4 linked regions of the Homo sapiens genome follow. The protein of the gene in region 2 purifies or fractionates together with the protein of the main gene of each other region. This does not show direct contact. Each region holds a gene or a part of one and is shown on either strand. Other genes may lie near its edges.

Region 1 (7,733 bases), on a different chromosome or scaffold from region 2:
AAGTGAGTTTTAAAAAGATGTTTATTCAATTCAAACACATAATTGATAAAATTTTCACCTTAAAACTATAAAGAACAAAAAGCTGGAATATCCATCAACAGTACAATAGAATTACAGTTTATTCTGAGAGCAGATCAGCCAAGACGAACAAATGAGTCTTGTAATTGCATACCAGAGGTCAAAAAATTAGCCTTACCAAATGAGGAGGGAGAGGAAATGCTGAGACCTAGAGGAAAGGTCATAATATTTGGACTGAATAAAAGCATTTCACTAATAGCAATTTCCCTTTATCTGACAGCAATTGTAGAAAGTTTTAACAAATCCTGTTAAAATGGACAAAAACTATTTCCTGAATAGTTAAGAAAAGATTATAATAAATGCCAAGTATTCTACAGCATGTATAGAATCTCATTTCCAAGTGAGCATGCTGTTTTCTTCAGCATCCTGTTAGCCAAGTTCCAATTTTGGACAGGTCCTAGGAAACACAACATTGTTAAAGACAGAGATGATACGAGGTGATTAATTGTAAGTACATTTCTATAGATAGTATTGCACTTGGAGTGTGTAAAAATCTCTCTGAAGATTGGTAGAGATAAGGGTTGTAAACAGGTTTGAAATCCACACAGTGATAGCTCACATGCTAATCTTTGCCCAAAGTTCTATGTTGTTGAGAATGATTCTGATATATTATTTTAAAGGAGAGAGTGTCGTATGAATTCCAGATCTTTGTCATGGACAAAGAATCTAAGTGCTATTCATTTGTGGTTCCTGATTCATTTGTTCCTTGAGAGATTAGCTAAAATTAAGAGTAGGTGAAAGAACCACCAATTCCTTTCCTATGTCTATAGTGAATACAAACAGCCGTTACTACGTCTCTCCCTCATGTCAGATGGAAGATGTAACATCTTCCACAAATACTTACTTTGTTACTACAAAATGGAAAGAGACACTTCTACTGTGGTGAAATGTGTATGGCAAACCCAAATAATTTAGGCCACAAAATACCCTAGTTTAGCCAGAATTATGAGTAATCTACTTTTTCCATTTCACTCTGAACATACTGTCCTACATACATTTTATTTATTCGTTCCTTGCTACAGTGTAAAGGCAGAATATACTTTAAAAAAATAATCATTCATCAACATTTAAGGCAAATGATCAGAGCTTGAGTTTATTGTTATACAATGTTGCTCTTTCTTCTTTATTTCTGAACAGCAAATCTCATCAAGCATGATTGAGTTTTGCTTACTTGTATCTTCTCCCTTACTTCCGCATTTACTATGTGTATAGCTCTTCAGAATAAAATTAAGATAGGAGTAAACCAATACAATTCAGCAGCATCAGTGACATAACCAAACATATAAAAGTCCTTCCTGACTGACCCTGAATGACCATTTACCCCCTTTCAAATTTTGACATCAAATTTCTACTTACAAAAAGTATATAGTTTCAATCAGGTGGTCAAAGCATTGATGACCGCAAGTAACAAGAAAAATGAACCCTGCGAATACGCACATAAAATAATAAAGGAAAAAAGAAAGAAAATGATAGCAAGGAGAGGTGGAGATTTGCTTGTTCTCAGAGGAGGAAACACCTATTTTTCTACTGTGAAAGAAGGAGAAATAACTCGGTCTGAAAAAAGAGGTGCTTTCTTGAAATGGTTTCCGCTGGATTCCCCATTATTTTAGATATGATGGGAGCTGGAGTTGTGCAGAATATTTTGGGACGCTTTCCGCATGGATTTATGATCCTCAAAAAGAATCGGCATCAATTAAACTATAGTTGACCCTTGAACAGTATGGGGGTCAGGGGGACGGACCCCCACACAGTAGAAAATTAATGTATAATTTCGACTCCTCATAAACTTAACTGCTAATACCCTACTGTTGATTAGAAGCATTACTGATAATATAAAAACAGTTGATTAACACATATTTGGTATGTTCTACATATTACATACTGTATTCTTAAAATAAAGTAAGCTAGAGAAAAGAAAATGTTAAGAAAATCATAAGGAAGATAAATATACTTACTGTTTATTAAGTGGAAGTGGATCATCAGAAAGGCTTTCATCCTCATCGTCTTCACATTGAGTGGGCTGAAGCGGAGGAAGAGGAGGGGTTAGTCTTGCTCTGTTAGGGGTGGCAGAGGAGGAAGAAAATCCATGCAAAAGCGGATCCTCGCAGTTCAAACCCCTGTTGTTCAAGGGTCAACCGCACAATCAGGTTTTGATGAGAAGACTCAGTTTTCAAACTTGATTTTAAGCAGGTATATATCCGGGTACTCAAATTCGGATGTAATATTACATAGAACTTAAACACTCCTAGTTAAGCAGAAATAGAAAAACCCAGTTACCTAAGTAGAAATCAACCTATGGGAGGAAAGCTCAGGAAAGAGCCAGGGTCCTGGCATAATAAAGAGTATAGGCATGATATATGTTTGTGTTTATACGTGTATATCTGTTGTTTGGAAATAAAGAGCAAATTGAGTATTGGATTAAGGGAAACCTTTCTTGTTTCCCATGAGAGAGCCGTCCTTTGAGCATCACATTTGCAAAGGTAGATTGATTATCCGGATCCACTTCCAGTGGGTTTTGTGGCAAGCCGAGACATCTATTGACAGCATCCATAGACTCTTCAGAGCTTGGAGTGGAAAGGACCTTGAACTTAGAACACATGCACATTTATTATGTGATTGAAGTCGTCTTCTCTCACTTTTGCTTCAGTAAACACTTAAACAAAGCCATGTACTTTGCGGTAGGCAATGTTCTATATTTATTAAATATACAGTTAACTCATCCAATCCATTGCAACCACCTTATAAGGGCGTTACTCTAATTCTCTCCATTTGATGGATGGATAACTGAGGCTAGGAGATAAACTGCTCATTGCGGGGGAGGTGAAATTCCAGCCCAGGCTGTCCGGGCTCTAGATCCTGTACTTTTAACCAATAGCGCTTTGCTTCTTTTCCTTGTATTTATCCCTTTCAAAAATGATTAACTGTATGCAAAATAAGATATCAACTAACGAGAGGGCCGGCAAGGGTTAACGCGGAAACAGATCCCCGAGCTGAAAAAACAAAAACAAACTGGGGAGCCAGAGCCCCTGAAAGCTCCGGTAGGAAATTCAATGGGCCTCCTGTTCCTTTAAACTCTCGCTTTCGCCCCCGCTGACACTTTGCAAAGCCGCGGCGGCAGCGGCGGGGACCACGCTGCGGTGCACCACCTTCCGCCACCCTCCCGCGCTGGGCTGGGGTCGAGGGGGCTTCGCAGAGTCGGTAACCGAACCGGCTCTGGTTTGCTTTCTCCACTCCCTAGCCACTACCAGAACCAGCCTCCGCGAAGGGGCGAGCTGTGGTTAACCCTTTCGTGCCCAGGGAGACCCCGCCAGGGTCGGGGCGGGGCGCGATCGCCCCCCGCAGTCGGGCGCGAAGGCGGCCCGGGAGCCAGGTGGGTGTGGGGCGCAGTTGGCGGAGCTGCCCAGGGCGTGCGAGCAGGCTGCGAGGATGGCGCCCCGGCGGCGCGGAGGTACCGCCCCGCGCTCCCCCGATAGCTCCCCGGCCTGTCCCCTCTCCCCGCGCTCTGGGGCAGCCGGCTGCCTGGGGCGCACGGGGCTGGAGTGGCCCTCTCCCTCCCCTTCGCTAGGCTCCCCCGGCTTAATCTGTTGGCCGCGACTCCTCAGCCAGCCCCGAGGAAAGTGCAGCCATTGGACAGGTCTGTGCGGGCTGCCGGTTTCAGGGAGGAAGGTGGGAGAAGCCTGGAGGAGCGAAGGGGAGGGCGGAGGGAGGAGGGAGGAGGGTGCGGCGGCAGATCTGGCAAATTGCGAGCTGCCTTCCCTCCTCAAAGTGTGGAGAAGGAGCGCGGGGGAGCGTGGCGACGGCAGCGCCTCCTCCGCCACCAAACTCCTGGGGCTCCGCGGGGGCTTGGGGCCACCTCCTCCTGAGCCCGGAGGAACCCTCTCCCGATAGGTTCCAGCGTGACTCCCTCCCACTCCACCCTTTTCCTTTCTTCTTCCTCTTTTTTTTTTTTTTTTTTAAACACATTTTTTTCCTGGCTTCGGACCTCAGACTGCTGCAGCCCTAACCTTCCCAGGGCTCAGCTCTTTGGAGCTGCCCATTCCTCCGGCTGCGAGAAAGGACGCGCGCCCTGCGTCGGGCGAAGAAAAGAAGCAAAACTTGTCGGGAGGGTTTCGTCATCAACCTCCTTCCCGCAAACCTAAACCTCCTGCCGGGGCCATCCCTAGACAGAGGAAAGTTCCTGCAGAGCCGACCAGCCCTAGTGGATCTGGGGCAGGCAGCGGCGCTGGCTGTGGAATTAGATCTGTTTTGAACCCAGTGGAGCGCATCGCTGGGGCTCGGAAGTCACCGTCCGCGGGCACCGGGTTGGCGCTGCCCGAGTGGAACCGACAGTTTGCGAGCCTCGGCTGCAAGTGGCCTCTCCTCCCCGCGGTTGTTGTTCAGTGTCGGGTGAGGGCTGCGAGTGTGGCAAGTTGCAAAGAGAGCCTCAGAGGTCCGAAGAGCGCTGCGCTCCTACTCGCGTTCGCTTCTTCCTCTTCTCGGTTCCCTACTGTGAAATCGCAGCGACATTTACAAAGGCCTCCGGGTCCTACCGAGACCGATCCGCAGCGTTTGGCCCGGTCGTGCCTATTGCATCGGGAGCCCCCGAGCACCGGCGAAGGACTGGCGGGTGGGGTAGGGAGGTGGCGGCGGCGGCATGGCGAGGTTCCCGAAGGCCGACCTGGCCGCTGCAGGAGTTATGTTACTTTGCCACTTCTTCACGGACCAGTTTCAGTTCGCCGATGGGAAACCCGGAGACCAAATCCTTGGTAAGTAAGATGCACTTTAGCTTGCTGATTTTGTGCGCAGCTGAAGACCTCTCTGGCACTCTCGTGCTCCCTACCCTCTCCCCCCAACATCACCTATCTGCCCTTGGGAAACTTATTGCAGTTGCTTTTCGGCTAAACTTAGGCTTCCCAAATGGGGAAAGAGGGTTATCAAGAGAAGGACGCCGGGGACTAGGGGTTTTCTTGAGGCTTTCGGGCTTACTTCACCTGGGCGGCAGGGGGTGGTACTGTCTCCCCAAAGTAGCCCAGGGAGGGCTTCAGTGTGAGAGCAAAGCTTCTTCCGTGGATACATCTCCTAGGACCTGGCATCTCCAGGCTGTGTGCTCTCCGGCTCCTCCTCCTTCCTCGCTGCTGGTTAAACTAAGCGTGTGTGGTATGGGGTGGGTGGGGGACGTTGTGAAAGCCAGGGATTGCAGGTCTCCCCTCTGCACGAGAAAATTCCCTGTGGCAGCACCTTCCTTCCCCTGGCGATCCCCACTAGCTCCGTCTAGTGACCTGGGCCAAGCGGGCGCTGGAAGGGGGGCGGGGTAAATGCGGCCGGCGCAGAGGTGGGGAGCAGGTGGGAAAGGTGGAGGCGGGCTCGCCTCTGGAGACCTACCCCTGCTCCCATTGTCCTCCGCCTGCCAGCTTCACAGACAGGCCTGAACGCGCAGAGAGTTCCTTGGAGTGCCCTGATTTTGTCCCCGAGAGGGCCCCCAACCTCCGCATCCTCTTAGTGGCTGTCCTGGCAGGTGCGCGTCCTGCGGGGAGTTGCGCCCCGGGGGCTATCGCCGAGCGGGAGCTGCCTCCTGGAACCCTGCCCACCGCGAACTGGGTGCCTACTCCCCATTTCTGCCTTTCAGTGAAGAAAGTGAAGACACAGGCAGAAAGAGATCTTGGCAGAAATTGGTGAACTAGGGTGGACTTCGAGAGGAGGTGAAACGAGAGAAAAAGAAAAAAGAAAAAACTTGGAGGGAAAAGAAAAGAAAACGAAAACTTTCTCCCTAGGATAATCAATTTGTCAATTTGTTCTTTTCTGGTGTGTGTGTGTGTGTGTGTGTGTGTGTGTGTGTGTGTGTGTGTGTAATTTAAATGATTGCCCGGAAAGTATGCATGCGTCCTCAACAGTCAACTAGAGAGTCACAGATGGAAGGTTGGGGGACACCTGGGGATTCCAGGCAAGGTGAATCTTGAAGATCTTGAAGGAAACCCTTGAGTGAAATTTACCAAGCCGCGACTTAGAAGACAGTCACAACACTTCGCCTGTCCCTGGTGTAAACTGTTCTAGATAAAGCACAGATACTGACTCTGCGCTCTTATTTATGGTTGAAGGGGTGTGTGTGTTGGGGTGTATGTGCAGGGAGGCAATAGGATGACAACACTTTTAAAGCTGAGAACAAAATGCAGATTTCTTGGGTGTTGACTTGTCTTTGTCACATTTAATTGTTCTGCATTAATGGACATAGGTTGTTCTTGACTGTGTATGATTTATGACAGTAGACTATGCCTTTTGTTTATTTCTCTGATACGTTTCATTGGTCCGAAAAAATAACACTTTTAGCCTTCCAGGAAAGGACACAGTTATTTAAAAATTGCAACAGTAATTTTCATGTACTTATTCACGGTATGAATAGATGCTTAATAAAAACAATTAACTCCACCACAAACGAGGTTAAAAGGATGTGTGTGCCAATGTGCATCCCAAGTTGTTTATTTAAAAACTTCTTTGGCACTAGGAATAAATAATGCATTTGCAGTAAAGGAAAAAAAAATAAATGCCAGCAAATGTTTATCTTTTTATAAACCTGTTCCAGTAACGTTACTGAAAAAAGAATATATGTATACACACACACACACACACACACACACACACACAATACACACACATTTGCTATGCCAAGAAGTTCAGAAATTGAGGATGAAATTCATCCCAAAGTAAGATTGGCCATATAATTAAAAGCCCTTGCTGTGGGAAATATAAAATACTTAAAATGTTCAACATCAGTGTACTGGTATTTTAAGCTAGTTGAATATTTCTGATGGGAAATATACTCTAGAAACCCATATATTGATAGGATTGATTTTTAAAAGAATGGTTTTAAATTCCTTGCCAAATTTTCGAAGACTTTTATAAACAGAAGTAGCTTCTTTCCTGGACATCATTTACATGTAGTTTTATGAAAAAAATATTGTAATTAAATGGTTAGCTTACTGAATATATAAAAAAAGCAAGGTGAAACAGAAAAAAGTATACAACTTTATTTGTAAAATAGTCTATATAAAAATTCAGTATGGGGGGAAAAGTCCAGCAGTCTTGACGTTTGTCATGCAACAATCAGGATCTTTATTACAGACATGTTGGCACAGGAACAACATCTGATTTCATAACAGGGACATTTTATTATGCGTTACTTTAGTAAATGCTGCAGTTGATTTCATTGCCACCAGAGGGCAGATAAACTGCTAATTTCCTCTATTATTCCCTTTTCTGTTTTAGAGGGAAGTAGTTTATGTTTATCATATAATTTACACTTATTTTAGTTGTTCTTCTCTGGTTGAATATTTTTCTGTTATTTCCTGCTTTTGTTGGAGTTAAACAATTTACTTTGAAATATTACTCATTTGTAGAGTTTGTTATGAGAGTGTTGCTGTTGAGACATAATCACTAAAGTTTCTGTTTACATATAAACCTAGAGCACAGTGATATAATAGAGGGGTTAATTCAAGTGAACATTTATTGTAAAATGGACATCTGTCATATTGTTGGACAAAAGACAGGTTGATTATTTTATCAATCAATGACTTGAGGCTACCTGCAAAATTTTAAAAATATGAAATATGAGTTTCTTTTTCCTTTAGAGAACAGATACAAGTTTTGGAGCTTGAGGTTGGGTAAGTTTGGACTGAGACATA
Region 2 (7,813 bases):
CCAGTCCCTGTAAGCTGCCTCTGCAATAGAAACCTATTGGTAGATATTTTAATTAATAGTTGGGGCACTTAGGAGCACTTTAATTTTCACAGTGCGTGTAATAACAGTATTTCCGGGACAGGAAAAAAAAAAAAATCAAGGAAATTATTCAGGTGATTTTAATTATCTTTCTCCTAAGTGAAAGCCCCTTTCTCTTGAAAATCTGACCTTATAATTATCTCTTATGCTAATTATAAAGATATCCCACCTTCTTTTCTTGAGTTTATTTTTTTTCTCATTTTTATGCTGTGTCATGTATTTATAGAATGTGTTTAAGGTTGGGAGTCTTCTTTTTGTTATCTCTATTATATCTGGAGTCAAAATATCACCATTGTGTAATTGAATGAGATGATTTGCAACCATTGCTCCCAGTGCCCCATGTAAGTTCTACTGTCTTTCTAGACTTGTATAATCTAGGAATCTGTGATAGGAATGCTGATAAAAGGGTGGCTCATACCTTCTGCTTTTTATTTTGTAGCAGATGGGGGGGAAGTTAGACTCAGGAAAGAGGGGTAAACATAGCAAAGTTAGGTTGAAAATGGTTTGTAGGAGGATTTACGTGGTTTCAGAGGAGATGTGTCTAACTCTTCGCATAGTAATTAACAAGTCAGCATGTTACCGATTGACTTGACAAGGTCAGTTAGCCCAGTGGGTCTTGCTGGGCCCCCACTCTTCATGCCAAGGAACCGAGCAGAGCTTCCAGCTTTAAGAACCAGAATCCAGTCACAGGGTTCCTGACAGACGGACGCCCACAGGAGGCTGGGACAGGAGCCCCACGGAAGGTTCTACCTGTGGGTCGAAGCAGACGCTGAGTCATCTGGTTAACTATTTTGAGCATAATATTATATGCATGCAGTGCATTTAATTAAGAAAAATCGCACAACAAAATCCTTTGAGAAGGACAGCGTTTGTCTGATAATTTTCTCAAATACTTAGTCCCATAAAATTTAGTTTTAGAAATTGTATTGCTCTTAAAATACATTTAAACAGTCAAAAGATTGGAATGGGAGCCTAAGGAAAAGCAGGAAAGGCTGAAGCGGGAATTGTGTGAGTTGAAGGCACCTAGCATTTGGCTGCATTGGCAGGTGTTACATGGAGGCTGGTGAGGGTGACCTGGAGCCTCTGGTCATGATCAAATGAGATAAGGAAGTTAGGCTGCTCTGAAAATCGACACACAGCCCAATCCATAGATGGTGTTATTATCATCAATATGATTATTTTGTGTAATTCCACAATAGCTGTTTCATTAACTTCCAAAATGTGGAATTGCATATATTTTTAAATTTTGTGTCCATTTTTAAAAAGTTTACCTACCTTTCTAAAACGAATCAACCAGAACGGAGTTTCACCCACGGGAGGTGCCTGCCTTCCTCTTGCCCACTTGCTCCCAGCGTGGGTTTGCCGTTTCTCACCTCGACTTCCCGACAGAGACCCGGGATCTGTCGCCATCGCTCCTGTCTCTCGGGCAAACGACCGTGAACATATAACCTTTCAGGTTTTTAACAAATTGCAAGATTTCAGTGAAAAAATTACTATAAAGCATTGTGGTCCTAATTTAAGAAAAAAATGTTTTAAAAAGTACATAGTGCATTGAAAAAAGACCATAAGATTTTATGCCTACTTGTTAATTTAGGTTACCATGAATTTTATTTTCCCTTTTGCATTTTTCAGTACTTTATGAGTGTTCTACAAAAAATCACTCTGCTCTTCTGAGCAGCGTAAAAATCACACTTTCCAACATATACCCACTGTCTCCCTTTTCCTTGTAAGAATGTCGTTATCATCTTCCCAACCTTTTCCAGTCCAACGAGGGTTGGCTTTTAGTTCAGAAATACCATGAGAGACACAGGGAAGAACTGTGCGAGTTAGAGGTGGGGAGGAGGAAGGAAGCCTGAGGCTGAGAAGCGAGGGACTGAGAGGCGGAGCTGGAGGAGGCCTTGGGCCGTGTGTTCCGGCTGGCAGGTGCAGCGCCCATCCCCTCATGCAGGGCAGGTGTCGGGTGCCTGGGCCTCGGTCACTTGAGGGGAGTGTCCTCCCCATCCAAAGACAAGAAAGGACGTGCTCCATGCACACAGGAAGGCAGGTGTGGCCTGGGGTGGGATGGGCCGGGGCGTGGGCGTGGGACACGGGGACACGGGTTGGGGCTGGGGGAGCATGACTTTAACAGACACTGGGTGATGGATGTGTAGGTGCCAGGTCCTGGGCCGCCAGTGTGGCCTTGGGGCTCCTGGTGCTGTGCCCGCCCCTGCACCCACCTGCTTGTCACCCCTCTAGGTTTATTCAGTGTGACCCCTGCAGAAGCTGCCTTGGGGACCCGGAGGGCGCAGGTGTGGCCCTGGCTGCAGGGACCCCGAACCCCAGGGCGTGTTCCTGAGGCTGGGTGTGGGGATTGCTCCCTGGCCCGCACCGGGCTGCGGCCTCTGGTGTCTCAGGAGGGTGGCTTTCAGAAGGAGGGCCTCACTCCACACCAGTGGTGCTGGGCTGAGGGGTGCACTGTGCCATCACCAGGCCCCTCAGGGAAGGCTCTGCCCTCTGCCCGCTGCCTGTGGGTGACACATCCGGAGCGCCCTGTCCCCAGCCCTGCTTAAGTTTTCTCCACTGAACTTGGCCTTTTCCAATGCCTGCAGCGTGTGCCTCTGTCTGTCTGGTGTCCCCTCTGCCTCTCACATGCGAGGATGCTCTGCAGGGGCAGGGGTGAAGGGGCAACTGTGGAGAGCACAGGGGTGAGTGTGGCTACTATACTCAGTGTGTCTATGCAGCAACATGTAAGAGAGGCCTTCAGGGAGTGCTGCGAGTGTCTAGCTGGAGACAGCAGGTACAAAGGCCCTGTGGATGCTGCAACAAGCCTGCCTCTAAGGAGGCAGGAGATGGGGCAACCAGGGAGAGGCTGAAACCACTGCCTGCGGCCTGGAGTATAACACTAAGGACAGTGCCACTGGCCGCCTCGGTGCAGTGGGTCCAAGACGGGGGCAGCCTGGCTGGCTGGTGGGAGCCGATGGTTTATTACATTGGCGAATGGAGTGATCTGGTCCCCTCCAAGGTGGAAGGTAAAAAGCGATTTAGGATGAGATTCTTGGGACAAGTGTATCTTTGCAAGGGTCAAGAGGCAGGCAGGGTGCTGTGCCGGGGGCTGTGCTGAGTCCAAGAGGGCCTTGAAGGAAGGCCGTGACCAAGGCCACGCCCTTGCTGGGTCAGCTGGATAAAAATGACTCTCTCAGATCAGCAGAGCAATTCTGCATCTGCACATTGATTTATAGTTTTGTGAAACTCATTTCTGAGGATGTAACAATCCCTTCCTTGGGTGCGATAACCTTGCCTTGCCATTGAGCTCTGCTGATGGGATTGCAGAAGTGTAAATCTTCAGATGCGGACCTTCTAGGGTGTGGACAATGTCTGCACGGCCGTCATCGCTGCCAGCGGCTCTCCAGTGTGCGGTCTGCTTTCCCTGCACACACGCACTTACACATGTGCACACACACAAATGTTGATTTTCAAACTCTTGGAGTAGGAAGACCTTACCATGGTTTTTTAAATCCCCTATTTTGTTTGGAGTCACACAGGGATCAAGATGATTCAGTTTTCAAAAAATAAAGCAAAACAGATGGCACAGCTGGATGGCTGCTGTGTGCGTTCCTCTCTCCCTGCCCCTCCCCTGGTGGCAGCCCCCTCCCCCACTGGGTGTGGCTGGGATAGGCGGATAGAGAGGGTGTGTCTGTGAGCGAATGGTAATGATAAAACAGTAAACAAAAGATGCTCCTGTCCTCCTGGGGACACCAGGGGGAGAAAGTCAGATAGAGGAAGAGGCAGCCAATAGGAAGGAGTCCTTTCTAGTTTGCTTTCTTGAGTTCTGTGACAGTTAGAATTAGGTTTGGCCGCAAATACCAGGCTATCCAGTATAGTGGCTTATGGTCCAGAGATTTTATTCTGTTATCTAATGGAGGTTGGGGGTGGTCCCCTGAGGTGGGCCTGGAGGCAGGCGGGGATAGTGCATCCCAGGACCCCTGGGTAACGGAGCACGGCCCAGAGCCTGCTGGCCTGACGCCCTCCTGAGCCTGAGCCCTCACTGACAGGTCCTCGCCTTCCTCCCCACAGAAGGGCTTTCGAGGAGGAAGAAGACGTCGCTCTGGTTTGTGGGGTCTCTGCTGCTGGTGTCCGTCCTCATAGTCACCGTCGGGCTGGCTGCCACCACCAGGACGGAGAATGTGACCGTTGGGGGCTACTACCCAGGGATCATTGTGAGTGCGCCGGGCGGGCGGCCTGGGCCGGGGAGGGCAGGGTGGTGTGTGGCTCTCTCAGGGTGGAGTCCACGCCAGCTCACAGGGCTGGGGCTGAAGGTGGGGAGGCTTCGATCAGTGCTTGTGGTCGGCAGGGTTATGGCCCCCACAGACATGCACTTCCCAATCCCCAGGACCTGGGACAGTGGCAGGTCCAAGGCAGAGGGGAATTGGGGTTGAGGTCCAAGTTGATCTCAAAATAGGGCCAGGTGCCCTCCATTGTCTGGGTTGGCCCGATGTGGTCACAGGGTGACCAGAGGGCAGGAGGGGGGCCAGAGCCCGGCAACAGGAAATGTCCAAGGTGGAGGAGGGGCCAGGAGCCCAGGATGTCCAAAAAGGCCGGACAGAGCCTCCCCAAGCATCCTGGAAGGATTTTACCCTGAGGGACCAGGTCGACCACCATAGCCCATGGAAGGGGAAAGTAACTTTAAACGATTCCTACCAAGAAGCCGTGGGTCAAAGATCGTATTAGTGACGTGATCGCGTGGGAACGGCCAGAAGGTGGTGGTGCTGACCTCATCCACCCGTCAGGCCAGATTTTGAACAGTAAGGCGGCGAGGTAAATTGATGGTAACCTAATTGGCAAGAATTGGTCACCCAGATTCAAAAGTATCAAGGTTTTTTGAACTATGAAATTACATCCTCTGTCGTTAGTAAAAGAATTCTCCTAAGTGCCTGCATTCTGCACAGTGAACCTCTGTTGGAATGGCTTGGATCAGCTGCGATGCCCTTCACATGCCCCAGAGCCTGGTTGCTACGTCATAAAGTGCTAAAGCAAGATTTTAAAATGCGGCTTCTTCAATCTCATTACTCTCACCTAAAGTACTACCAAGATTGGTAATAATATTGATGACAATCAGCAAAGATGAAAGATTTTTGGCCCTAAGTATTTAGAAATATTTTACAAATACTGTTTATTTCACCATTATATTTTCCTTTGTTTATATCTTAGGGTGTGCCTTAGACATCTACACTATCTACCTGTGTATAGTTTATGAATAAACATATACAAATAGTATCTATGCAGAAAAAGCTTTATCAGTAAAATTGCAAGAGGCCAATGGTGTGGGGACCTTGGCCTCATGTGAGGGGCTTTTCTGCTTCCTGGGCAGAAAGGGGAGCCCAGAGGGCAAGTGGCTGTGAGGAGGGACCTCCAAGTGATTTGCGAAACATCAAGATCAGCCTTGAGTGGTTGTTTTTTTTGGTTTGTCCTCAAGCTTATTTAAGAGCTGCCTCAGAATAACATAATGAAAAACATCAATGGCTAATGCCCAAGCTATGCTCTGTAAAGAATCTACCTTCTGGGCAATGAATTAATGCTGTGCTGACCAGATTGAAATGGCCTGTAGTACAGACAGTTCTGAAAGCAAACTAGGGAGACAACAAATAAAAGCAGCTTCAAGGAAACGTGGCTAAGAGTCACTTCTGTGGAGACTTTCTGCCAATGTAGAGACTTAAGAAGCTGATCTCAGAAGAAGCGGCCAGAACGTGAAAACATCTCCACATTTTCAAGAAAGGTGTGGTTTTTTTCAAATCCCCAAAAAATAAAACGTAGTGTAACAGATGTATTTTAATACATGTATATCGAAGTGAAATTTTGATATTTTTGACGTGTGGAGTTGAACTGCAGTATTTTGAAGCTCAGCACATGAAGAAATATTCCTGTTATCCCTGGAGAATTCTCAAACCGTTGGTGAAAGCCACATGTGTACGTGTCTATCACCACAGACACACAGACAATTACAGAAAAGGCAAAACTATTTACATAAAGAAGTCCGGTTTCCAGTGCATTAAACTTGACACCACGGCCCCAGCAACTCCAAGGCTGTGCCGGGCGGGCCACCCCTTCCAACAGACACTCACTGGGAAGTGCGACCGGCCCGGCGCACCTGCGTGGGAGCAAGAGCCGTCTTAGGCCTCGGCACGGTCGTTGGCAGGTCCATGTTGGCTGCTCTGAGCCAGATTTTCGGTGGGTGTTGCTGAAATGCATGTTCTTCACACTGATTTTAAAAATTCCTCTGCCAGGTGGGCGTCACCTGCCAGGACGGGCCCTGGGTGGAGGGTGCGGATGCCCGGCCGGTGGCCTCTGTTCTAAGACAGCACAGTCCCATGTCTATTTCCCGACATCCCAGTATCATTTTCTGCCCAGAGCTGGGGCTTCCTGTGGAGTAAGGGGGCTCTGCCGGACCCCTGGTGGCCTGTGCTGCAGCCCGGGGCCCCCTCTGTGCCTGGCCCAGGTGCCCCCTCTGTGCCTGGCTCAGGTGCCCTTTCCCCACACCTGGCACCTCCCTGCTAACGGTCTGCCCTGCTCACTCTCCCGAAGCAGCAACCAGAGTTAGGCCGTCTGAGCAGGGGTCACTGGTGGCCCTTGTGCCTGGCAACCCTTCTTTTGAAACACGGCTGTAGTTCCCTAATACCTTACCCAGGAGCCATGCTCAGGGGCATCTCAGGCCTGGAGAAGACGGGACAGATGGTGGTGCTTGGTGGCCCTGGGTTCCCGAAAAGATGTTGTCTCTGGGGGAGGAGTGGGAACTTCTCTTACCCCAGAGTCACAAGCCAAACAGATGCATCATTAAAAACCTCTGAGCAGAGAAGACAGGACAGGTGATGTTGCAGAGATGCCTGCCCAACGCCAGCAGACGCACCTGCTGCTCAGTGGTTGAGGTTCTTGAGGTAGGGATGTCTGGCCTTCGTCCCTGGATAAAATGCCTTTGAGGGCGGGATTATTTGCTTTAAATGTCAGTGTTAAGCTTCTAGGCACGTTAATGAGTGTTTCTCTCTCGTTCTTCCTTTGGTTTTAGCTCGGCTTTGGATCTTTCTTAGGAATTATTGGCATCAACTTGGTGGAGAATAGAAGGCAAATGGTAAGAAAGTACATGGGGTGGTGGGGAGCATGAGTCCCTCATCAGGGGATGGTACAGCTGCACTGGGGCTCTGAGAAGAGTCAGCCCTGCCTCCCCAGCACACTGGTGTCTACAGGACCAGCTCTGAGGTTCCCGGGCTGTGGCCTGCACAGTCCTGGATACAGGGTTCAGCGAGTACCATTCACACCTTAGTCTAAGCGAGCATGGCCCTGGGTTGCTGGTGTATCAACCTCACGTGGTGTGCAACCACCAATGCTGAGGCCTGGGAAGCTCAGAGAATGCATGAAGTTTGGGACGGGGGTGGCAAATTAAATTAAGTCCTAGTGTGTAAAGTTCAGGCAAAAACATGTGCATAAGCCTCTCTTCCTTTTGAACCAGTGGCTCTAGAGTCTTGTTTTTCGTCTGAGTTTGGTTAATGTTTATCTTGCCCAGACTAAGAGGAGAGGTAAAGACATAAAACCAGGAGGGAGCCCCCGGTTCACATGGCAGCAATGCAGAGTGAAATCCAGACACTGCCTGTCCATGATGTTCGTGGCTGTATGCGCGGCAACAGCGATCAGGTTCAGCTGGAAGTCTGTTTTGTTGATGCACTGTTTTGGGGACTATAACTTTAAAAACAAAAACTGGCTAATTTTG
Region 3 (7,813 bases), on a different chromosome or scaffold from region 2:
GCCCAATTGCTCAGTCATTCTAAATCATTTAATGTAGCACAAATTCACTTATTTAACAAATATTTATTGAGTGCCTGCTATACGGTAGGCATAGTTTTGAGCACGAAGAATATAGAAATAGACAAAATAAAATCTCCCTTCAGTCTAGTGGAGAGACAACAGATAATAACACTGTGTGTCACATAATTTAAGTGCTAGAAAAATAATAAAGGTTACATCATGCTGATTAGAAGAAGCCTACTCAAAAGAGTTCATACTCCATCTATAGTAAGTTCTACAGCAGGGAAAATTAATCTATAGTAGAAAAAATTAGAATATTGATTGCCTCAGAATCACAACTTTCTAGGGTGATATTAATGTTCTGTATCTCGATAAAGATTTGAGTTACACAGACATACGCATTTGCCAAAATTCATCATAATGGTACATTCAAGACTCGTGTTTTTCTTTCTTTGTCATCTTTATCTAAAAAAATTTTAAAACATATTGAATTCCAGTTAATGATTTGCAAGCTGAAGTGTTGAGGGGCAAAACATATTGATGTCTGCAACTCATTGAAATGCACTAAAAATCAGATGGATGAAGAGATGAAGAGATGAGATAAGGCAAGCACAATAAAGGGTCAATTGTAAAATCTAGTGGGAAGTGTATGGGTTTTCACTGCAAAATTATAATTTTCTGTACATTTGTAAATTTTCAACATAAAATGTTGGGGAAAATAAAGCAGGATACGGAAATGTGGGGAAACTGGCTTGATTTGGACAGGAGACTCAAAAAACACCTCTGGAATGAGGTAACATTTTAACAAAACCTGAGTATATTTGAGAATACATAAAAGAGCACATGCAAAGTTCTTTAGGCAAAATCGTGCTTGGCATAACACTCAAATGTTATCTCCAGGCTAGAATATTCTTCTTCAGTTCTGGAACTGTACATATAACTGCCTCCTTGGTATACGGCATGAGGTACATATATCAACTGGATGCCCTACAAAATACAGAACACTTTCTCATCACTCTCCTACCCTAAGTCCAACATTCTATCATTATTTCAGTCAAATATGCCATGACCCAGTTGCCTAATCGCTATTTAGGGGCGGGGGTGGGGGGATGGGGGGGGGATTCAGAATGTATTTTTAATCTCTCTGAAAAGTACTCAATATTAATACACTGTCCAATTTTTCACTGATGCATACTTTAGATTTTGATACACAGAATTTTTTTATTTCATCTACATATCTCTATATAAAGTGAATTAAAAAATGTGGAGAGTAAAGGGTTAACAAAAGAACTTGAAGTAGCAGTTCTCAACTTGGCTGTACATTACAATCAACAGGATTGAGGCACCCATAGTCCTATCCTGTTGTTAGCTAAATGACTCAGTAAGTTACCAAACAAAAGAAAACACAGGAACTAAGGTAAGATTTTTAAGCAAAGAGGGAAGATGATGTGGAGTTGAAAACTGCTGACTCAAAGGGTTACACAGCCTGGTGCTGTGTATGCCAGAAGAATCCACCTTGGTTCCACTCTTTTTCTATTCTATCTCCCCACAACTTATCAAGACCCATCTTATGTCAACCTAAAATATTAGCATTTACCTCACTTCAGGCTCTCTTAATTTCTCCCCTGGATTAGTGGCTTTTAAACTTTTTTTGACCACAGTTTACACAGTAAGAAGTGTGTTTTATATAAATATCTCTGTGTATACCAGATTGCTATTTATCTACTGATTTTACTTACATACACACACATACACACACACACACACACACAGAAAAACAAACTTTCAGGAAACAATGCTTATTCTTACTACATTTAACATCTTCCAATATTTCCTATTCTCGCCTATATTTCTTTATTTCATTATGTGTTCAAATGCTGGTCATAACCTATTAACGGGTTGCACTCTACAATTTGAAAAACACTAATATAGATTACTGCAAAATTCTAATACAAAGATCATAAGTGGTGACAACAAGTCTGCTGAAGCATTTATCTGGTCTCAACAGAATTAGGTTTATGTACTTACTGTTTTGAACTGGAATGCCGGCTTCCCTCATTTATAAAACAGCCTGGCTGCTATCCCAACTCCTTAACTCCTCAGCTGTCTATACCACTGCAAAAATGATCTTAATAAAAGCAAAGAGGATTATGCCACTCCCCTGCTTTACATTCTTTAATGCTTATTCGTGGTTTTCAGAAAAAACTTCCAAACCCTTCGAAATCACACAAAATTCTTCACAGGGCTGTTTTCTCTTCAGCATTATATATCTTGCTGCCTCAAATGCTGAACTCAAACTATAACAAAATAATAATTCCTGGGTTCAGCATACTCATTTTCATGGGTGCTAGGAATCTGAATGTGCAGTCGGCTCTACTGAAAATGAAATTTTCACCACTCGTGCCTCCACTATTTGCTAACTCCTCCTCTTCTTTCAGAATCCACTGACGTGTCATAGCTTTCGAAAGTATTCTTTGACGTCAACGGCGCAGGTAACTCCTCCCATTCCTTCTCTGCATGTATTCCTTGTCATGGCATCCTAAACTTACCTCTGGCATAGCTTTAATTGTACTGTATGCTGGCTGATTGTCTACTTCTCTTCCCCTCCCCCACCACTTAGACGATGAGGTTCTTGACAGTAAGAACAGCTTCTTATATGTCTTTGCCACAGTGACTGGCACATGAGAGACTAGGATAATTGACTAATTTACCAAACATGGGACACAGGACAAGAGATTTTTGAGAGGGAAAGGAAAGCTAATATAGGGTCTGAAACATTTCCAGGAAACAGAAGAGGGAAAAGTAGTTGAAAATAAGCTCAAAGAAAAGTCTGGCCTGAACATATAGATTTAATAGTTAAAATGATGGAGAGCTGGCCAGGCATGGTGGCTCACACCTGTAATCCCAGCACTTTGGGAAGCAAGGCGGGTGGATCATGAGGTCAGGAGTTCGAGACCAGCCTGACCAACATGGAAAAACCCCGTCTCTACTAAAAATACAAAAATTAGCTGGGCATAGTGGCGGGTGCCTCTAATCCCAGCCACTTGGGAGGCTAAGGCAGCAGACTCACTTGAACCTGGGAGGCGGAAGTTGCAGTGAGCCAAGATCGTGCCATTGCACTCTAGCCTGGCCAACAAGAATGAAACTCTGCTCCAAAATAATAATAATGGAGAGTGCTAGATCTACTGGGGTAAGCACACAAAGGAAGACCAAAGGCTGAAACCGTAATTAAGCAGTGGACAACATCAGACGAGCCAGTAAAGGGCACTGAGAAAAAAAAAAACAATTCCAAAAAAAAAACCAACGTACACTAACATAGTGACTGAGGTAACAAAATGAAGACAATAGTGTAGAGACATCTAGAAGTGCAGTTTCAATAGCTACAACAGTTGACATTCTGATCACTGTAAACTGTGTTGGAAAGCACGTGTCCATATATACTTTCTGACTGTACTGTATATACTGTACACGTTTACAACTGTGAATCACTAAATAAGCTTCTTGAAGGCAGAGACAATTAATCATTAATTAATATTAGTATTATCAGTGCCAAAGGTCAAAGAAATTACCGAATGGAATACACATATAGAATACTCTTTAAAGAAAATCATGGGAAGTTGAGTAATTATAATGAGAAACTTAAAAGAGATTAAGAATTACTAACCAGCAATGAAAAACTGCATTTTTAATAGAGCCAATCAGCAAGGTTTGTGACTCCCCAGCACTCAATATTAGCTGAGGAAAAGAAGAGCTATTTGCTCTCCAGTATGAGGTCTGGAAAACAGATCACCAAGGATGCCAGAGAACTGAGGATATTATATGGAGTATCATGGTCACTCTTACGAAAAGTAGAAATAAACCAAGAATCAAATTAAGAGGGTCTTGCTAATTAACATCAGGTTTTTTCTTTTCCCTTCGTACTACATATATGTCAACCAGATGAGCAATTGTTCTTAGTTTCAAAAAGTACTTGTTTTGTAGCAAGTAAATAAATAGTATGATTCAGATCCCAACTTAGATTTCAAAGTTCTGAACAATGAAAACATTTTATGCACACATTCAATAATCGTATGTTAACAGAGTTGCTACTTAAATGCAAGTCAGACATTAAAAAGCTTAACATACCCTGATGGCAAGGTTTCTGTGTTGGCATTCCCAGACTGCTGCCGTACAGGATCCATACACCCATCTGGCTGTCTTGATTTGGCTGCTTCAAAAGCAGAACTACTTCTAGAATTAGAGGTGTCAGGCTCTAATATACTTCTAGCTTCAGATTCCAATTCTGCACTGGTAGAAGGAATACATTCATTGTTTTCTGAGGAAGTCAGTATTTCTTGAACTGGAGGATCTTCAACAGTAGTACTAGTGCAATTTGGAGACAAGGCATTTTCTTCAGACACTACTGGAGTACCCGTGACAGACGCATTATCAGTTGGTGCAAATGAGGATGATTCTCCATTAACTGAGAAGGGAAAATTAATAAAATCATCTATCAAGTAATGATAAAGCAATCAATTACCTAATCAATTGACTACACTTATTCAGAGCCTAATCCAGACTAAGCAACTACAATCCATTCTCCAAACAGCAGACAAAGTAATATTTTCAAAATATGTAACATAAAATAAAATGGAGATTTTATTTTTGTTGCTCAAAATTTCAGGGATGAATATGTAAATGATAAAAATTTAAGTATGTATAATAATAACAACCTTAAGGAGAGAGGAACCAGCATTAAGATAACCAGTGTTTTCCCTCCAAATCATCAATTCTGAGAGGAAGTCTGTATGGGCCATCTAAACTCTGAAAAATGATCCCTTTCAATCGCCCTTCCCTTGTGTAAGTGGTAGCTAACATCAAACGAACTGTTTTGCCAATAGTAGGAACTGTATGATGGCATCAGTTCTTAAGATAGTACTATAGGGGTTGCAAGAACCCATTCTACACTTTTTCAAGAAATAACCCAGTACTGCAATCCAGTGACACAGTTTTCCTAATTTTCATTTTAAGTGTGATTGATCTAGTTCGACTACGTGTCACTATAAAAATGAGTCAAATTAAAACTGTAAGGGTGAATAGATTACAGAACAAAACCTACTGGAAGACCATATATCAAAGTTCTAATGGAAATGGCAGAGGGAGACATAATCACAAATTTTAGGAGAATTAATGACAAAAAGAAAACACTCAGATTAAATGCTACTGGACATGGCCAAAGAAGTACCTAAAGATGTAAGAAAGAATGGTAACAAAAGAGCTTAGAATTCATTCCAGATACAGAAAAAAAAAAAAAAAGTAAGTAGAAGAAAATGAATTTTGGTCAAAAGACCCAAAAAAAAGATCAGAATTTCCTAATGCACCTGATAAGACTCCAGAACTTACTGAAAATATAGTATCTAAGTCCTCATCCTAGACTTACTGAATCTCTAGGGGAAATCTCTAGGGAAGAACCTGGGGATCTGCATTTTTAACAAATGCATATGATTTTTTTACTCAGGAAAGCTGGAGAAACCATGAAATATACCTTTCCAAGTGTTATAAAGAAAACATGTTTAATATAAATAACATTAGAAATACCACGTACAATTTCATATCAATGAGTTTGAAATTAGCTAAACTAACTCAAGGGAAAGAAAAAAAGACAAATCAGAGCAGCAATGGAAAAGGTGATGAAAGTTCTAATATCATCCCTCCTAAAGGCTCCAGGCTCAGAAAGGTTTTTGAGAAAATTCTATGAAGCCTTTATTGGATAGATCATTCTTATGTTATTTAAGGTGTTATAACACATTAGGGGAGAAAAAGTGAAAAGGAGTGTCCTAACTTATTCTGGGAAGGTAATGTAAACTTTCAAAGCTGAAACTGAACAACAACAGAACAAGAAGACTATAGACTAACATCATGTATAAATTCAAGGATGATTTGATATTAGGAAACTACATTAGAAAATCTACTGTTAGCAGATTAAAGGATAAACGTCATATGATTATTTTCAAAACAAACCAAAAGCATTCAAGAAAATCTTGGTAAAATGCCTGATAAGAAGAATCATGAAAAATTAAGAAGTAATCTAGATTATCTATCACAAACCTACAGTCATTAATATACAATAATTGTAAAACATTTTAAGAACTTTTTTTTTTGAGAAGGTGTCTCGCTCTGTGGCCCAGACTGGAGTGCAGTGGCACAATCACAGCTCACTGCAACCTCCACCTCCCGGGTTCAAACGGTTCTCCTTCCTCAGCCCCCCAGTAGCCGGGATTACAGGCACCCGCCACCACGCCTGGTTAGTTTTCCTATTTTTTGGTAGAGATGGGCTTTCACCTTGTTGGCCAGGCCAGTCTTGAACTCCTGACCTCAAATGATCCACCCAACTTGGCCTCCCAAAGTTCTGGGATTACAGGCATGAGCCACTGTGCCCAGCCTATTGTAAGAACTTCTATTAAGATCAAGAATAAAGTAAAATCAGGGCTGGGCACAGTGGCTCACGCCTGTAATCCCAGCACTTTGGGAGGCCGAGGCGGGTGGATCACGAGGTCAGGAGTTTGAGACCACCCTGACCAACACGGTGAAACCCTGTCTCTACCAAAAAATAGGAAAATTAGCTGGGTGTGGTGGTTGTGTGCCTGTAATCCCAGCTACTCAGGAGGCTGAGGCAGAAGTATTGCTTGAATCCGGGAGGTAGAGGTTGCAGTGAGCCAGGATCACGCCACTGTACTCCAACCTGGGCAAAAGAGCAAGACTCCGTCTGAAGAAAAAAAAAAAAAAAAAAAAAAGAAAGAAAAAGAAAAAGAATAAATTAAAATCAGCAACAAAACAAGGAAGATCACAATTACCAAGCCAATTCAGTATTGATTATATTTGACAATCCATTAAGAAAAGTCATAACAACATTGGAAAGAATATGGTAAAACTCATTTGTAGTGAAAATGACAAATAGATTATTTATTTAGAATACACAAGAAAATTTTTTTAAAAACCCCATTAGAACCAATTAATTGGAGCTAAAACATTTCAGCAAAATGAACAGACACAAGATCAACAACAAGATTACTTCAAGACCTATCCGAAGAAAAAAAATTTTTTTTTTTTTGAGACAGAGTCTTGCTCTGTCACCCAGGTTGGAGTGCAGTAGCGCGATCTCAGCTCACTGAAACCTCAGCACCCCAGGTTCAAGCAATTCTCCTGCCCCAGCCTCCCAAGTAGCAGGGATTATAGGCATGCGTCACCACACCCGGCTAAATTTTTTTGCATTTTTAGGATTTCATTATGTTGCCCAGGCTGGACTCGAACTCCTGACCTCAAGTGATTCCCCAGCCTGGGCCTCCCAAAATGCTGGGATTACAGGCGTAAGCCACTGCACAACCAGCGTGAAGAAAACACTTTAAAAAACATTACTAAAAAGAATGAATACAGACATAAAATATCTCTCAATGGGAAGATTCAGTATTGTTAAAATAATAATAAACAATAAACAACTCTCCTTGAAATGCAAATGTTGGTGAGATGCAAAGCACTAGGAATTCTCATTCACTGCAGTGGGAATGCAGGAGTACAGCCACTTTGGAAGACAGTTTGGCCGTTTGTTACAAAAGTAAACATACTTTAAAAATACAACCCACCAGTCTCACTCCTCAATCCAACTGAATTGAAGACTTATATTCACGTAAGAGCCTGCACACAAATGTATATAGCAATGTTTTTCACAATTGTAAAAAACTGAAGTAACCAAGGAGCCTTTATAATAAGTGAGTATTTAGTGATAAAAAGAAATGAGAAGTCAAGCCACAAAAAACATGGAGAAACCTTAAATGCA
Region 4 (7,864 bases), on a different chromosome or scaffold from region 2:
TGTATTCAATATGTCACACTCTTCTGGTATTTCTTTCTTTTTCTTTTTCTTTTTTTTCTTTTTGGCAGTCTTGCTCTGTTGCTAAGGCTAGAGTTCAGGGACACGATCTTGGCTCACTGCAACCTCCACCTCCCGGGATCAAGTGATTCTCCTGCCTCAGCCTCCTGAGTAGCTGTGACTACAGGCGTGCGCCACCACGCCTGGCTACTTTTTGTATTTTTAGTAGACACAGGGTTTTGCCATGCTGGCCAGGCTGGTCTCGAACTCCTACCTCAGACGATTCGGCTGCCTCAACCTCCCTAAGTCCTGAGATTACAGGCGTGAGCTACCGCGCCTGGCCTTGTCCTGGTACCTTGCCAAGCAGTGCGCAGTGGTGTTCCGTATTTCCTACATCATGTTCTTCCACTTTGGGTATAACTTACTGACTATTCCAGTACTGAGGTTCTATATGAGTCCTTCTACTTACGATTCTCTTTCATCATTGTTCTTGATCTTTTTCTCTTGAAGTTCCTTTTATCCCTCCAACATTCTCTCAGTGTCTCTTCTGTAGCTTGTCTGAGTCCTTTAATATAATTCAGCATTTTCCCATGTCTTAAAGTGGTTAAATATTTAAGTTTTCTACAAAATCTAAAATATATATATCTTTGAGACAGGTTCTCGCTTTGTCACCCAGACTGGAGTGCAGTGAAGCGATCATGCCTCACTGCAGCCTCCAAATCCTAGGCTCAAGCAATCCTGCTGCCTCAGCCTCCAGAGTAGTTGGGACTATAGGCCCATGCCACCATGCCCAGCTAATTTTTGTACTCTTTGTGAAGACGGGGTTTCACCATGTTGCCCAGACTGGTCTCGAACTCCTGGGTTCAAGTGATCTGCCCACTTCAGACTCCTAAAGAGCTGAGATTACAGGTATGAGCCACTGCACCCAGCCATAAAATACTTTTTCTTTAGTTTAGTAAATGTTTTTAGAATTAGGTTAATGCTCTTCATTAAAATAGATGACCAGTGAAGGTTATAGGTTGTCTAAACATAATATCGAAAAGAAAAGGAAATAAGCACTGAGAAATCCATGTAGTTCTTATAAATACTCATGGCCCACTCTTGTCATTGTAAACACATGTAAAGGACAAAAGTGGTTTCCACGGACTACCTGATGTATGTGCATTCATTGGCTCACCGGATCCCCACACTGAGTTCAGCCATAGGGAAATACACATAAACATTTTAAATCTATAAAGTGCATAAGCAATATTAAGACTGTAAATATGTTTTGCTTATAGTCTCATTCTCTATTACATCAGACTCTATATTTGCTATGCATCTTTCTACCACGAGGAATCTGGCCTTGGTACTCAGACAGACCTGAATTTGAATACTAACTAGTTTTACTACTTATGGCCTGAGTCCTCTTTCCCACCCTCCACCTTTTTAAAATGGAGTTGATCAGCTGGGCATGGTGGCTCACACCTGTAATCCTAGCACTTTGAGAGGCCGAGGCAGGAGGATCACTGGAGACCAGGAGTTGGAGATCAGCCTGACCAACATAGTGAGAGCCTGTCTCTACAAAAAAAAAAAAAAAAAAAAAAAAAAAATTTGTTGTTGAGATGGAGTCTCACCCTGTCACCCAGGCTGGAGTACAGTGGCGTGATCTTGGCTCACTGCAACCTCCACCTCCCAGGTTCTGGGAGACAGAACAACAGAGCGAGACTCTGTCTCAAAAAAAAAAAAAAAAAAAAAAAAAGGTTATATGATGAACAGAAAAGATATTGGTAAGTGAAAAAAGCAGGTTACAAAACAGCATTCTTTCATTCTATTTTTGTTAATAAATTCTATACAAGTATTGGCTGGGTGTGGTGGCTCGCACCTGTGTAATCCCAACTACTTTGGAAGGCCAAGGCGGGTGGATTGCTTGCATTTAGGAGTTTGGGACCAGCCTGGGCAACACAGTGAGACCCCATCTCTACAAAAAATAAAAAAAATAGCCAGGTGTGGTGGTGTGCGCCTATACTCTCAGCTATTCAGGGGACTGAGGTGGGAGGATTACTTAAGCCAGGGAGGCAGAGGTTGCAGTGAGCCAAGTTTGCGCCACTGCACTCCAGCCGGGGTGACAGAGCAAGACCCTGTCTCGAAAAAAATTAATTAAAAAAATTCTTTATATGTATTTAATGTGTATTTCTGCATGGTGGGAAAATGAGAGATTTAAATTCCCTCTTAAATTTTAAAATGAAATGTGCTCGTCTCTCTACAATGATCATGTGCTACTTGTGTCATAAAAAGTTATGAAAAATAAAAATGCAGCAGAAGTGCATCTTGGCGGTTGTTTGGTTTCATAGGGAGTGAGTTATACTTGGCACACTATGGTTTGCTCTTACCACGTGTTTCCTCTCGTGATCTGTAGAGAAGTCCTCTGAGGCAAGAAGAGGCAGAAGCTCCTAAAGGGCTGTGCCTTCACCTGTCGCCGGCACGCAGCTCCACAAAGGGGCGCTCAGATGGCTATTGCTCATGCTTGGGCCACAGGACCTCGTGCAGTCTCCTCATGACATCCCGAGAAGGTGGGAGGCAGGGATGGTGCTGGGGCTAGTTTTCCTTTGGCAGAAGGGGAAACCAAGTCACAGAGAACCTGCCTTTTTCCTTGCACTGCCCCTCTGTGTGGTCCTAGGGACAGGATTTTATTATTTATTTATTTATTTATTTTTCGAGGCACAATCTCACTCTGTCACTCAGGCTGGAGTGCAGTGGTGCAATCTTGGCTCACTGCAACCTCCACCTCCCGGGTTCAAGCGATTCTTGTGCCTCAGCCTCCCAAGTAGCTGGGATTACAGGCGCCCACCACCACACCCAGCTAATTTTTATATTTTTAGTAGAGATGGGGTTTCGCCATGTTAGCTAGGCTGGTCTCGAACTCCTGATCTCAGGTGATCTGCCTGCCTCAGTCTCCCAAAGTGTTCGGATTCTTGTGAGCCACTGCGCCCGGCCTGGGACAGAATTGTAGTCCAGATGTCATGTGCTGGCCATCACCAGGAGGTTACGTTTTGCATCTCTTCTGAGCTCACCAGCTCGGCGTGGGTATGTCGGAGCAGGACGTAGTCATGCTTGGCCAAGGGGGTGCTTAGTCCTGCCTCAGTGCCACGCACCACCCCACATTCGGCAGTTCAGGACCTGGCCAGGCTCACTGAGGTTCTCACAGCCGTTTCAGGCAGGGTTGGCTTCTGCTTGTCTTTGCATTCTGTGAACTCTCACTTTCTGCTGCTGTTACCTCCTCTGACTTTTGCACTGAGGCCTGCCGCCTCAACTCCCTCTTGGTGAGTGTTTCTTAGGCTCAGCTCACACCTTCTCCTGCTCACCAAGACCTCACCCTGGGCCTGCCTGGTGTCAGCTGCCCCCGTGCCAATCCTCCCCACCCCAGCCGCACTCCTGCTTCCACAGCCTCCTCTGGCCTGCACCCTGCACGTGCCCTGGAGCCGCCCATTGTTCTTTCTCTGAATGAGTATCTGTGCCCTACGATTTAGTTGTGTGCTCCTCATTCTCTAATTGCATCCTCTAAATGGCCATCTTCTCTCCCGTAGAGGACTGTGGGCTCCTTGCAGGAAGATGCTGTCGATATGATGGGAACAAGAACAGTTCTGACATGTGACTGGCACTTCTGATGTGCCAGGCCCAGGGCTGGGCGATTTACCTAATTATTTCATTCCATGATGACAATAAACCTGTGTGATCCCACTTGACAGATGAAGAGAGGTTGAGTGGCTTGTCCAAGGTCCCCCAGCTGGGTAGCAGTAGAGCAGGGATTCTCAGCACATCCATCTGACTGTGAGCCTGTGCTTTTCACCACTGCGCAACCCTCTGTCCCTGCTTGCTGCTGGACTCACATTTCCTTGGATGTTCTTCCCGATGGCCTCCACGGAGTCTGCTTCTTGATGGCAGAACAGCCTCCTGCTGCCGTGAGAGCAGAATTACATTCTCTCCCCAAGATGCCCAGGGCCGGCTTCCTTTGTGCTCAGAGAGTGGGGTGGGCTGAGGACACTCAGAGCTTGGTGTGTTCTCCCACCCCCATTTTCTTACCCCTGTGCACCCTGCACTGTGCCACAGCCTCTCTCCCAGCCCCTTTTCCTGTGGACCCCCAAGCTGCCAGAGGGTTCTTGCCAGACCCACAGGGATCCCTGAGCTGCAGGTCTGCCATCTCTCTCTAGAGTTGGTAAGAAAATGGAACCACAGTTCACCAAAAGGCCCCAAGGAGAGGCTCCGGACTGAAGACAGCCACCCCAGCTTCACACCCCCCATCTGGACCTTTCCCCTCTACAGCCTCCCTCCCCTTCCCCCAATCAGAGTCTTTGCTTTGGGGCCCAAGCCCTTGGCTAAGCTCCACCCCTCTCCCAGCATCCTAAAGTTTGGGGGCTGCATTCAAGTCAGAGATTTCCAAGTAGGGGGTGTGTTGGAGGGACTTCTGAGGGCAGCTTGTCCTGGAAGAATGGGGGAAAGGCGGCGTGTGTTGCTGTCCCTGAGGACATCTGTGTAGCTCCCTGGGAGACCCTCTGCCCTTTCCCCCTCCCACCAGCCCGGCGAGCAGGGACCAAGCCTGCTTATTATCACCTGACGCTGCGCAGCCGCTGATCCCATTGGTGGAGGCAGATTCGGTCTGGCTCTCTCGTTCTTTCTCCCTTCTCTGCCTCTCTCTCCTCCACGCTGCTTTGATTTCGCTCTTGCCTCTCTTCTTGCGCTGCTCAGCTGGGAACATCGTCTCACCAGGGGCAGCAGCGACGCGCTGCACAGCCAGACAGGAGCTGGCTGCGGGGCATGGAAGCAGCCTCCTTGGCAGCCGGGAGAGGAGCAAGCGCACGCCACTGCCCGTGACCCAGGCGTCCGGCTGCTGTCCCCTGCCGGGGAGCTCATCCACGCAGAGGTCTCTCCCTGTCCTCCCTGCGAGCTTTTCCTCTGCAGAGCCCAGTGGAGCCAGGTGAGTACCCTTCCTCCCTGGAACCTGCTGCTGTTGATCCTGAGTAGCCGGGATCTGGGGGCTCTAGGGTCCTGCCACCACCCAGGGTGCCCACCTGGACTGCCAGGCCTGACGACCTTGTCCCCTCTCCCCCCCCCCGGCCAGGCCTTTGGCAAAGTGGTTAATGGCTGAATCCAGTCTCTGGGGCACCACAGTTAGTCACCCCGTGACCGTTCTGCTGCAGTCAGCGATGCCAACAGGGACAGCAGGGTGGGGGAAGCATTCCCTGTGGCAGGGTGGCTGTTTGAATGGGCATGGGGAAGGGGCACCGGTGTGCGCGGCGTGTGTGTGTGCGCGCTCGCGAGTTGGCTGGAGGCTTGCTGGCGCAGATAGGTCCGTCTGTCCGCAGTCATGCTCATGTGTGGGTTTTGAATGGTGTGAGGCATGTCTAGAAACATATCTTTCTGGCACACGTGAGGTACATGTGTGTGGGGGACTTATTTGAGTAGCCTGTGGGTGTGCGTGGGTGGGGACACTATGAGGCAGTATATTTAGGGGTAACCATGTCCCTTTTCATGTGTGTGGGAGTGTATGCAGACAGGGGCTTTCTATATGGGGAGGTGAGACCCAGAGCAGGATGGAGTGGGTAAAGAGAAGAAGGGGCAGAAACCATTGTCTGTGGGCAGAGCCACGTAGGTGCACAAACCTGTTGGCATGAAGGCTCAGGGCTGGCAGAGTGTGGCCAGAGGCAAACACATTTTCAAAGTCTGTCTTTGAGCCTGGAGATGATTCGAGAGAGAATACCAGACTTCGGGCGGGGGCTGCTGTGTGTATGAACACACATGTGTGTGCCGGCAGGCGTGTGGGTTGCGTGCCTTCTTGTGGAGGTGGCACACATGCATGTTGGTGCCTGTGGCATCCTCTTTTCCCCACATATGGCTTGTGAGGCGGTGTGCGTGGACGTGTGTGTGCGTGAGCCTGTGGACATGAACATGTCTGGGTGTGCATGGAGGTGACAGATTGAAGAGGGAAAACTGTGGGGCATTCTTAGAATGTGGAAGGTGGCAGCAGGCACCTGAATGTGGAGATGGGTGTGTGGGAGTGAGGACATCTGCGGAGGTGTGGGACGCGGGTGGGTGGGCACTCTTGGCGCATGTGTGTATGCGCGTGCGTGCCTGCCTGTGTGTGGGTGTGTACATGCCTGTCTTGGGGTGGATCCACACAGGAGTGTGGGTGTTTCTCGGGTGTTGCCTCAACCTGTCCCTCACACCCTGCCCTTCCCCAGTCTTCTGGGTGTAGAGAACTTGGGTTCACACCCACCCCTCTGTCCACCCCAGCTCACTCACTGCCACCCTCCCAAGCTAGCGGGGGGATGTCATCTCAGCTTTCCCAGAACCGTAGGGAGGGAGGGACAAGCAGACACCCAGGTCCTGGAGACCCCTACCGCCAAACACAGCTGCCCCTATTTCTAGGAGGACTCCAAGGAGAGGCAGGAATAGGTGCCTACTCATGGGACGAGTGTGGGCTGCCTCCGAGCGTGTGGGTGGGTGCCGCTCAGGGCCTCTTGGGTAGGAGTGTGTCTGTGTTCGTGTGTGTGTGTGCGTGTGTGTGTGTGAGGGGCACATGTGTGTCTCCCTGGGAGCTTCTCACCAGGTTCCCAAGAGATGGTAACTCCCCACTGCTCCACACCTGTCCCCATGAATTACAAACTGGTTTATTATGGTAGGGTTGTTTCCAGACACTCAATCCCATCTGCCTGATTTTGGGGTGGGCCTGGTAGCACCGCCATGCTTATTTACCATAGGATTCCCCATGCACAAAGCCACCGGCATTTGGCTGTGGGGTGGGAGGCTAAGATGAAACAGGACTTGAGTGACACCTGGAGCAGGTAAGGGCCATCACCTTTAGCCTTCACCCTGTACTTGCCATCCAGGCAACTCACAGGTTAATACAGAGGTGCCAGGCTCTGGAGCAAGCTTAATTGACAGGAAGGTGTGGGCTGGATCCTCTGGAAGCTATAAATAAAAGTACCTGCTTTTGCAGGCACAAGATGCCCTCACCACTAGCTCCTGGGCAAGGGGAGGAGAAAAAGAGGGGAGAAAGAAGAGAAGGAGGTGACATTTAGAAAAATGAGGGGTGCCAGGAACTGGGCTGGAGGAAGGGATTGGAAAGCAGGAGACCAAATGCCCCTGGAGAATGCCCCACCCACGTCTGCTGTCCCCTCCCAGACGCTGTCACTCCCCTTCCCTTTGCTCTTCCCCATCCCGGAGCTAGGCCAGCCAGGCCAGAGTCATGGCCAGAGTCAGCTCTTCCCAGCTAAAGCACACATGAGAGTGACCGTGATGAGGTCCTCTCATACCTGGACGAGCAGCAGACATAAGGGGAGAACCAAAGGAGTAAGACAGGGAGGGGAGAGAAAATGCAGTTGCTTGAAAGGAAACGATGGAAGGAGGAAAAATGCCAGGTGGAAACACCATGGGCACCCATGCATGCACACACGCCACACATGTGCCCCTCCACCCCCACACATGAGGGGACACTATCTTAGCTTAGTGATCAAGAGCTTGGGTGCCGGAGTTCAAATCATTTGCTCTCTGCGTGGCCTTGGGCATGTTAGTACCTCCCCAACCTCAGTCGCCTCATCTGTAAAATGGAGATAATGATAGTGTGTGCCTACTTCCAAGGTTGCATGAGACGTCTGTGAAATTATGAGCACATGGCCGGCCCCTAATAGATGTTAATGTTAAAAGTCATGATTGAAAGGAGTCAAGAGAAGATTGGCCGAAAGAGAAAGAGGGATCATCAAAAAAAGTTATGGGTGGAAAAAGAGCTTGAAGCCGGCTGTGCCGCGTACCCCTCCCACCACGAATGTGTCCACATGCACCAACGTGGCACTTGTCCTTCCAGCCATGTACCGCGGCAACGCTTGCTGAC

Evidence for each region.
Region 1: the proteins of TMEM255B (region 2) and PLXDC2 purify together in Homo sapiens (affinity purification with mass spectrometry; 2 studies listed by BioGRID and IntAct, with this or other methods). This does not show direct contact.
Region 3: the proteins of TMEM255B (region 2) and WWP1 purify together in Homo sapiens (affinity purification with mass spectrometry; 3 studies listed by BioGRID and IntAct, with this or other methods). This does not show direct contact.
Region 4: the proteins of TMEM255B (region 2) and PHYHIP purify together in Homo sapiens (affinity purification with mass spectrometry; 3 studies listed by BioGRID and IntAct, with this or other methods). This does not show direct contact.

What each region holds. Positions count from the first base shown.
Region 1 is NC_000010.11:19,812,369-19,820,101, forward strand, and holds the start of PLXDC2 (plexin domain-containing protein 2 isoform 1 precursor), read left to right. Parts: upstream 1-4,063; 5' UTR 4,064-4,711; coding exon 4,712-4,823; intron 4,824-7,733. UniProt on the Homo sapiens protein: May play a role in tumor angiogenesis.
Region 2 is NC_000013.11:113,761,984-113,769,796, forward strand, and holds part of TMEM255B (transmembrane protein 255B), read left to right. Parts: intron 1-4,131; coding exon 4,132-4,274; intron 4,275-7,114; coding exon 7,115-7,177; intron 7,178-7,813.
Region 3 is NC_000008.11:86,408,187-86,415,999, reverse strand, and holds part of WWP1 (NEDD4-like E3 ubiquitin-protein ligase WWP1), read right to left. Parts: intron 4,463-7,813; coding exon 4,126-4,462; intron 1-4,125. UniProt on the Homo sapiens protein: E3 ubiquitin-protein ligase which accepts ubiquitin from an E2 ubiquitin-conjugating enzyme in the form of a thioester and then directly transfers the ubiquitin to targeted substrates.
Region 4 is NC_000008.11:22,228,883-22,236,746, reverse strand, and holds the start of PHYHIP (phytanoyl-CoA hydroxylase-interacting protein), read left to right. Parts: upstream 1-4,647; 5' UTR 4,648-4,951; intron 4,952-7,837; exon of another isoform or gene 7,838-7,864. UniProt on the Homo sapiens protein: Its interaction with PHYH suggests a role in the development of the central system.